Regions from separate parts of the Homo sapiens genome. Here region 2 is linked to region 1. Evidence: fine-mapped expression QTL. A gene starts in region 1. The other region holds a variant in brackets. All regions are shown on one strand. Distances are from middle to middle.

Region 1 (4,406 bases):
CTAGAGCAACCAAATAAAGGAAATTTAAGATGCAACTTCTCATTGCCTTTTTTTTTTTTGAAGTGTAATTATAATGTTGTCATTGGTGCTGATTCGCAGAGGGCCAACAGTGTACGTGGTGCTGCAGAGTTCTTGCAAAGACAGCATTTTGTGAGCATAAACAGAGGGGAGACGTGTCTTGAATACAATTAATTTTGTTCTTTGAAATCCTACCTGCCAATTTGGACTTTTAATAATTTTATTCTCATTCTCCTCTGCCAGCCTTTACTCCAGAGAGAAGCAAAGGGAGAAAGACAAGATGAACTAGGGCTCCCCAGCACCTCAAATGAGAGTTTGCTTTTAAAGCCCTTGGCAGCACCTTTAAAAATGGAACTGAGTCCACCTGGGAAAAGGTGAGGGCCATCTCTTGAAAGAGAGATTTTCTGAGTAGAAACATTATATTGACACCCAGGAGAACGGTAACAATGTCAGTGTAACAAGAAATTCAGAGATAGCAGTTTAATGTGACAGCACAAACACTGGAATAAGCAGAGACTTTTCAAATCAAGAAGATACCAAACTAAGATCCGCAGAGCAAGTCTTGACAGTTATTCTTCTTGTGCCAGAAGCTCACTAATGGAGTTACACATAACCTTTCTAAACTACAGATTCCCGCACCAATCCAAATCACCAAATCACAGGTCCTGGGGTTGGATTTCAGGCATGTGAATTTGTTAAAACCATGATGTTCTTCTATCATCTCTAATTACATTAAGCTTAGTTGTTGTTGTTACTTTTTCTGTGAAAACCCAGAAAAAGAAAAAATATGAAGGATGACGTGTCCCATTTGATGATCAGGAGGGAAACTTTTGATTAAAACAGGTCAAGAAGAGTTTTGAATACCTCTTGTGCACACGTGAAGTGTTAATCATTGCACATTATACATTGCTTGATATGCACTAAAAACACATTCTGAGCCTTGGTTTCCTCATCTGTGAAATAGAGATAATTCTTACTTTGGAGTCTTTAGTGAGAATTAAATGAGATAATTGTGTAAAGTATCTAGGTCATAGAAGTTACAAAACTTGCTCAACACAATAGTCACACAGGGAAAATTGGAAATTACAGGTAGGTCAATCAGATGCCAAATAGACCTCATTTTAGGCTTTATTCCTTACACACTCAGACTTCTTCTGAAAAACAAATTCTCAAATACTGAGAAATAAAGGGAAAAAAAAGTTGGTCAGGAGAGCAGACTGCCGGTTTCTCCCCATTTTCCTTAGTAACAGACCAATTTTAGCGGGGATTCCCAGCAGCCATCCCAGAGCCCGGGGTGTTCTCAAGGCAGGTAATCATGCATCACATCAGGATGGAGGGAAACCAGAGCCATGAGTGTGGACCCCCAGAACACTCACCTCCAGATTTCTTTATGTAAAAAGGAATAAAATAGTGATTTTAGTTCCCATGAGCCATAGCCAAATCTAATTCTAATGAATACAATCACACAGGAAAACTCTTCAACAAGACTTTGATGATGACCATTGATAGATCACTAAGCAACTGGCCTAAGTAACACGAAAACATGTTAAAAAAAAAAAAAAAGAAAAGAAAAGAAAGGTGTTTCTGAGGCCAGATGAAGAAAGATGCTTGGTTACCAACTGTATTAGGGTTGTCTTGAGAATCAGAACCAGTGAGAGAGATTTATTGTGATAATTGGCTCATGTAATTATGGAGGTGAGAAGTCCCATGACCTGTCATCTGCAACCTAGAGAACCCAATAGAATTCAGTCTAAGTCCAAAGTTCTAAGAACCAGGGAAGCTGACTGTGTAACTCCTAGTTGAGTGTGAAGACCTGAGGTATCAGGGGTAGGGGTTGCTCTGCTTGTGTAAGTCCCATAGTGTGAAGGCCAGAGAACCAAGAGATGGTCAAGAAGAGAGAGTAAGTGTCCAATGTCCCAGCTCAAGAAGAGAGAGTAAGTTCATCATTCCTCTGTCTTTGTGTTGTATTCGGGCCCACAACAGATTAGACTATGCCCACCCACAATGATGAAAGTGGATCTTCTCTACTCAGCCTACTGAACCAATGCTCATCTCTCCCAGAAACACCCTGCCAGAAATAATGCTTTACCAGCTACCTGGGCATCCCTTAGCCCACTCAAGCTGACACATTAGCCATCACATCAACAAAGTAATTGGAAAAAAACAAACACATAATCCTTCAGCTTTAGCACTAGAGAGAACTAAGATTCAAACCCAGCTCTAATACTTTACTGGCTGTGTAATCCTAAGCAAGTTATTTTAATCTTTCTGAGCCTTACATTTTTGTTCTCGATTGGTTGGTTGGTTGTGTTTTGCTGTAGCTGAAATCACCTAGAGCAATACTCACAAAACAGAGTTGAGATGAATTTTAAATTAAATGAGAGAACAAATGCAAATAACATAGCACAATGGCACTCAATAAATTCTAGGTTCCCTGCCTATTTTAGTGATACAGTCAATTTTATTATTGTTCTCAATTATTTACTTTCCTTCCTATAAGAGAATTTTAGTTGGAAAAGTGACATGATCTGACTTAAATACCAACCTCATGTATAGGATGACATGACTGAAATCTTCTGAGAGAGAAATGAGCCCTACTAATAATTATAACAGGAGAGTAGGTATAAAGCAGAGCTGTCCCAGAAGGCTGAAATGTTTGGTCATCCTGGAGAGATGAGTCTGGAGTTTCATGGAAAAGTCAGGACCAGAGATATAGCTGGGGCATCATTGCCCTTAACATACACATGGTATGTGACTGAGGAAGATGCCCTAGGAAAGTACACAGAGAAGAGAAGAAAGAGAACCCGAGAGATAGCCTTGAGCTTTCCAGTGCTGACAAGTCAGACAGAAAATGAGGCACCAATGAGAAGACTGAAGAGGAGCAGTAGTCCTCATCCCAGAGCACCAGATGTTGGAAGGTGACTAAGCGGTATCTGGGAGTAAGTATAAATAATTCTGAGCATTTCACTACCTCCGGCCTTTACAAAAATCACAATATTGTCATTCAAAGGCCCTTCTTTTCAAACAACAGTGATCACAATGATATTTCTGATATGTTCTTCTAAGTTACAGAGAACAGATAATTTTTTTTCTTAAGAAAAAGAAAGAAAGAAATAGCCAATAAAGTAAAGATTTGCCAGGAAATGCACATCGTGCTATGTTTATACTCTAGCACAACCTAGTGGTACTGCTTTTTACCAGGCAGGTCTAGACTAGAATAAAGTGGATGTTGCTGTCAAAATTTCATCTTCACAGTCACAATCCACCACTGTGACTTTATGGTACTCCCCTGCATCATGGGACTGGAAGCAAGATGGATGTCACAATGCTACCTAGATGGCTCAAACATCCTTCAAGAGGGATATTTTTAGGAAAACAAAAGTGGTCTCATTGTGTCATTTTGAGATCCCAGTAGCTATTTTTTAGCAGTCAAGATATTACCTCAGGTCTTCCTTACTTGAGGTGCCAGGCAGTGTTTATCCATAACCCAGTGGTGAACAGTTAGCACCACTAGCAGCCACAATTTTTTCAGCCCTTTTCACATGAGAGCCTATCATGAAGTTCAATAAAGACATTCTAACAAAAGAGTCAAATTCACTGACAGCTCAGGCTACTCTGACAGTGAATCTCATCAGAACGAGGCTCCAAGTGAATTCACTGAGAAACAGACTTGTAGCGTTGGACCTCAGCATCTCGTTATAGGATACGAATTGTCCCATGCATGCAAACAGTTCTGAAGTGGGCAAGCATGGTGTGGGTTGTCATTTGCACCAAGCTCAGCTAGCATACAGTTGTTTTATCGGCCACATTCTGCTATGTGGAACCCTTAAGCCAGCAAGGCCTACAACTTCAACAGGATTCATATGCATGGAATTGTGACATCGGTGAAAAAAAGACCCTTCCTGGAATCTCCCAAACTTCTTTTTGTTTTAGAGGTTAAAATCTTGGAAAGGGACTCCCATCATGGAAGTACAATATCTACATCATATTGATATTGAGTCAGCATTTGGGCCATAAGGAGCTAAGTTCCTATTGTTTTTCACAAATGCAGGGCGCTCTAGGAGTCCCACTAGATCTGCAACAGAGAATGTCTTCTGCAGACAGGCACACACAAGCAGACCAGAGTAGAAGACGCAGGCCACCTCCCACAAGTTCAGTTGGAAGTGACACCTCTGAGTTCTTCCTTCTGGACTCCTTGCCAAGGCAGAGTGCAGACTCACCTCCCCCAAGGGTCCAAGGCTGAAGACACAGAGCCACTATCAAATAGCCAGTTGCAGATTTTAAATATAACATCATCTTAATATTTCAAATGGGAAAATGGCAAACATGTTATATATAAAGAGTCCCTTAATTGGATTGTTCAACAAGACTAGAAACAGCTATTGGAT
Region 2 (4,406 bases), 45 kb after region 1:
AGGAAGGCTTCCCTTGGTGTTGGGAGAACATTCTTGACCACCACTCCCCCAGCTTAATTATCAGAGTCTTAGTCATACTTGTCCAAGATTCAGAAAGCTCATCACCCTGCCTTTTCTTATCTACAAATCCTGGTCTATTAAACAGGTGTCCAGGTGATAACTTATTCTCCTTCACTGTCTTGGAAGGTTTTTCTCCTCCTCCTGGTTGATGTGAAGCAAAGCCCACATCCTTCAGGACCTATGGGAAGTGGTAGAATACAAAAGTCACACAAAGGGGAACGCCTAGAACAGTGAGGGGAGGTTTCAGTGGCAGTTGATTTATCCTCCTTCTCTCAGTAGTGCTCACCTGCCCCAACCCAACCACACACCACCACCACCCAAACCTCCTACCCCTTTGACCTCTAGTGTGGAGTGATAAGGGTTATAATTAGGATGAGTTCATACAGGGAGAAGATTGTGTGAGGCTGTGGTCTCACAAGGAGTTTCTTGTGAACTATGGAAGCCTTGCTTTCAAATGCAAACTTTTTAGATGGGATCAAGGACCATATTGCTCGTTTATATGTAAATTGTATTTTCTGGCAGAAAAATATAATAAAGCATTTTTTAAAAATCTTCCAAACTTTTCACACAGACTTAAGTTATTCCAGAATCCCAAAAAAGTATTATTACCACAAAAGGGATCACTGGTCCCAGGAGGAAATACATATTAGCATTCCAGGACCAACAGGTTCCTATGCCTGCTGTGAAGTAAACGACCAACACATTGAGACAGCCAGGTGTGCAGCAGAAGAAGAGTTGAATGATCACAGGGCAGATGGGTGAGGAGATGTGAGGAGACCCTCAAATCTGTCTCCCTGAGGAGTTCTGGGTTGAGGTTTCTAAGCGGATCATGGAGGGTGAGGGGCTGGAAAATTAGGGGCATTGATTGGTTTGGGTAAGGGGGAAGAAATCATCAGAATGTGGAAACTGCCTTCTTTGATGAGTCAGTTCCTTCTGGGGTCTTTCAGACCAGCTAGCATCAGTAGTTTCACTGACATGCATGACCAGAAAGAATATCTCAAAGGGAAAACTTAATGTTTCACAATAATTAAGTTGTTATCTACAGAGCAGTTAAGGGGAACTATAATCTTGTGTCAGGATTTCCATGATTCCGGGGTGGCAGACAGCAAACAACTATAAGGAAGCAAGTCAGAGAGAATAAGCTGAGCTAGTAAATGCTGAGTGCGCTGCAAGTTTGGTTTATTTTCATTTCTCCCCCTCCCATCTTTCCTGATAAATTCTATAATGTTTATAGAAATGGTTTCATTAGTTTAATTGAATTATTTCTATCAGAGAATACGAGAAGGGTAATTGGTTCTGGACTAGTCTCTATTGTTTATCGATTTCTTTACTTCATTAATATCTGCTCTTTATTATGTCCTTTCTACTTATTCTGGATTTAAGTTGTTTCTATCTTTCTAACTTCTTAAGGCACAAATTTAGATTACCAATCTTAAATTTTTCTTCTCTTCTAATATAAGCGTATAAAGCTATAAACTTCCCTCTATGTACTGCCTTTGCTGAGTCCCACAACTTTTCATGTGTGTTCATTATCATTTAGCTGAAAACATCTTCCAATGTTTGACACATGGGGTATTTAAACATGTGTTTTATAAATATGCAGATATTGGGACTTTGCCAGATGTCTTGGTCCATTCAGTGTTGCTTTAAAGGAATGCCTGAAGCTGGGAAATGTATAAAGAAAAGAGGTTTATTTGGCTCATAGTTCTAAAGGCTGTACAAGAAGCATTTGCTTCTGGTGAGGGCTTCAGGCTGCTTCCACTTATGGTGAAAGGCAAAGGGGAGC[T/C]AGTGTATGTAGAGACCATGTGGTAAAAGAAGAAGAGAGAGATAGGGGAGGTGCCAGGCTCTTTTTAACAACCAGCTCTCACAGGAACTAATAGAGTGAGAACTCACTCACTCTCCTGCTTCAGGGAGGGCATTGATCCATTTATGAGGGATCCACCCCCATGACCCCAACACTTCCCACTAGGCCCCATCTCCAAACACTACCACACTGGGGATTAAATTTGAGCATGAGATTTGGAAGGATCAAACTTCCAAACCATGGCACCAGAGTTCCTTTCATTAATCTTCAGTTTAATTCCATTACGGACAAAGAACATATTCTAAATATTGGAAGATTTCTGTCATTTGAAATTTACTGAGACTTCATTTTTGACCCAGCATATAGTTAATCTTAAAGAAAATTAAATGTGTAAATAAAAAAGAATGTAGGTTCTGAGCTGCTGGATGTAACATACTATAATTGTCAATCATATCAAAGCAGTTGCAATGGATTAGATGTTTGTATACCTCCAAAATTTGCATTGAAATCTTAATCCCTAATATGATGGCAGTAGGAGTTGGGGCCTTTGGGAGGTGATTAGGCCATGAAGGCAGAGCCTTCGTGAATGGAATCAGGGCTCTTATAGAAGACAGCCCAGTTATCTCCCTCATCCCTTTTTCATATAAAGACACAGTAAACCTGACAAAAACAAGAAATGGGGAAACGATTCCCTATTTAATAAATGGTGCTGGGAAAACTGGCTAGCCATATGTAGAAAGCTGAAACTGGATCCCTTCCTTACACCTTATACAAAAATTAATTCAAGATGGATTAAAGACTTAAATGTTAGACCTAAAATCATAAAAACCCTAGGAGAAAACCTAGGCAATACCATTCAGGACATAGGCATGGGCAAGGACTTCATGTCTAAAACACCAAAAGCAATAGCAACAAAAGCCAAAATTGACAAATGGGATCTAATTAAACTAAAGAGCTTCTGCACAGCAAAAGAAACTACCATCAGAGTGAACAGGCAACCTACGGAATGGGAGAAAATTTTTGCAATCTACTCATCTGACAAAGGGCTAATATCCAGAATCTACAATGAACTCAAACAAATTTACAAGAAAAAAACAAACAACCCCATCAAAAAGTGGGCGAAGGATATGAACAGACACTTCCCAAAAGAAGACATTTATGCAGCCAACAGACACATGAAAAAATGCTCATCATCACTGGCCATCAGAGAAATACAAATCAAAACCACAAAGAGATACCATCTCCCACCAGTTAGAATGGCGATCATTAAAAACTCAGGAAGCAACAGGAGCTGGAGAGGATATGGAGAAATAGGAACACTTTTACACTGTTGGTGGGACAGTAAACTAGTTCAACCATTGTGGAAGTCAGTGTGGCAATTCCTCAGGGATCTAGAACTAGAAATACCATTTGACCCAGCCATCCCATTACAGGGTATGTACCCAAAGGATTATAAATCATGCTGCTATAGAGATACATGCACACATATTTTTATTGCGGCACTATTCACAGTAGCAAAGACCTGGAACCAACCCAAATGTCCAACAACGATAGACTGGATTAAGAAAATGTGGCACATATACACCATGGAATACTATGCAGCCATAAAAAATGATGAGTTCATGTCCTTTGTAGGGACATGGATGAAGCTGGAAACCATCATTCTCAGCAAACTATCGCAAGGACAGAAAACCAAACACCACATGTTCTCACTCATAGGTGGGAATTGAACAATGAGAACACATGGACACAGGAAGGGGAACATCACACACCGGGGACTGTTGTGGGGTGGGGGATGGTGGAGGGATAGCATTAGGAGATATACCTAATGTTAAATGATGAGTTAATGGGTGCAGCACACCAATATGGCACATGTATACATATGTAACTAATCTGCATGTTGTGCACATGTACCCTAAAACTTAAAGTATAATAAAAAAGAAAGAAAGAAATTTTAAAAAAGACACATTAAAAAGATAGCTGTCTATGAACCAGGAAGAGGGCCACCACAAGGGAATGACTCTCCCAAAACCTTGATCTTGGACCTACCAGCCTTCAGAACTATGAGTAATAAGTATTTGTTACTTAAGCTATACAATCCATGGGGCATTTTTGTTATAGCAACCTGAATGGACTAAGAGAGTGGTTGACAGCCTTGTTGAGATCTTCTGTCTTATGATTATGGGATTTGTCTCTCTCTCCCTTTAGTTGTCAGTTTAGGCTTCATGTATTTTAAAGTTCTGTTATTAGGCAAGTACACATTTACAATTTCTATGTCCTCCTAATGAATTAAAACTTTTATCATAATGAAATGTCCCTCTATGTCTTTGGTAATACTTTTGTCTTAAAGTCTATTCTGTCTGATGTTAATATAGTCACTCCAAATTTATTATGCTTATGGTTTACATGCTACATCTTTTTGCATCCTTTACTTTACATTTATCTGTGTCTTACACTTAGTCATTTCTTGTACAAGGAATATAGTGGAGTCTTACTTTTTAATCCAGTCTGACCATCTCTGCCATTTAACTTGAGTGTTCAA

What was found. PIP is the estimated chance that this variant, and not a neighbour inherited with it, causes the effect. A credible set is the group of variants that fine-mapping cannot tell apart.
Region 2: its variant is the best candidate, but not a certain one, in a credible set for the expression of LINC01584 in testis (GTEx, PIP 0.53).

Annotation. Positions count from the first base shown.
Region 1 is chr15:86,114,127-86,118,532 of GRCh38, reverse strand. It overlaps LINC01584 (long intergenic non-protein coding RNA 1584), which reads left to right and starts at 1,816. Exons shown (of 6, transcript NR_120368.1): 1 at 1,816-1,918. The region is part of intron 1 of AGBL1 (AGBL carboxypeptidase 1); the gene reads right to left.
Region 2 is chr15:86,069,407-86,073,812 of GRCh38, reverse strand. No RefSeq gene overlaps it. Among named protein-coding and RNA genes, the nearest start is that of AGBL1, 8.3 kb to the left of the region's middle. The variant T/C (reference allele first, on the strand shown) is at 1,847.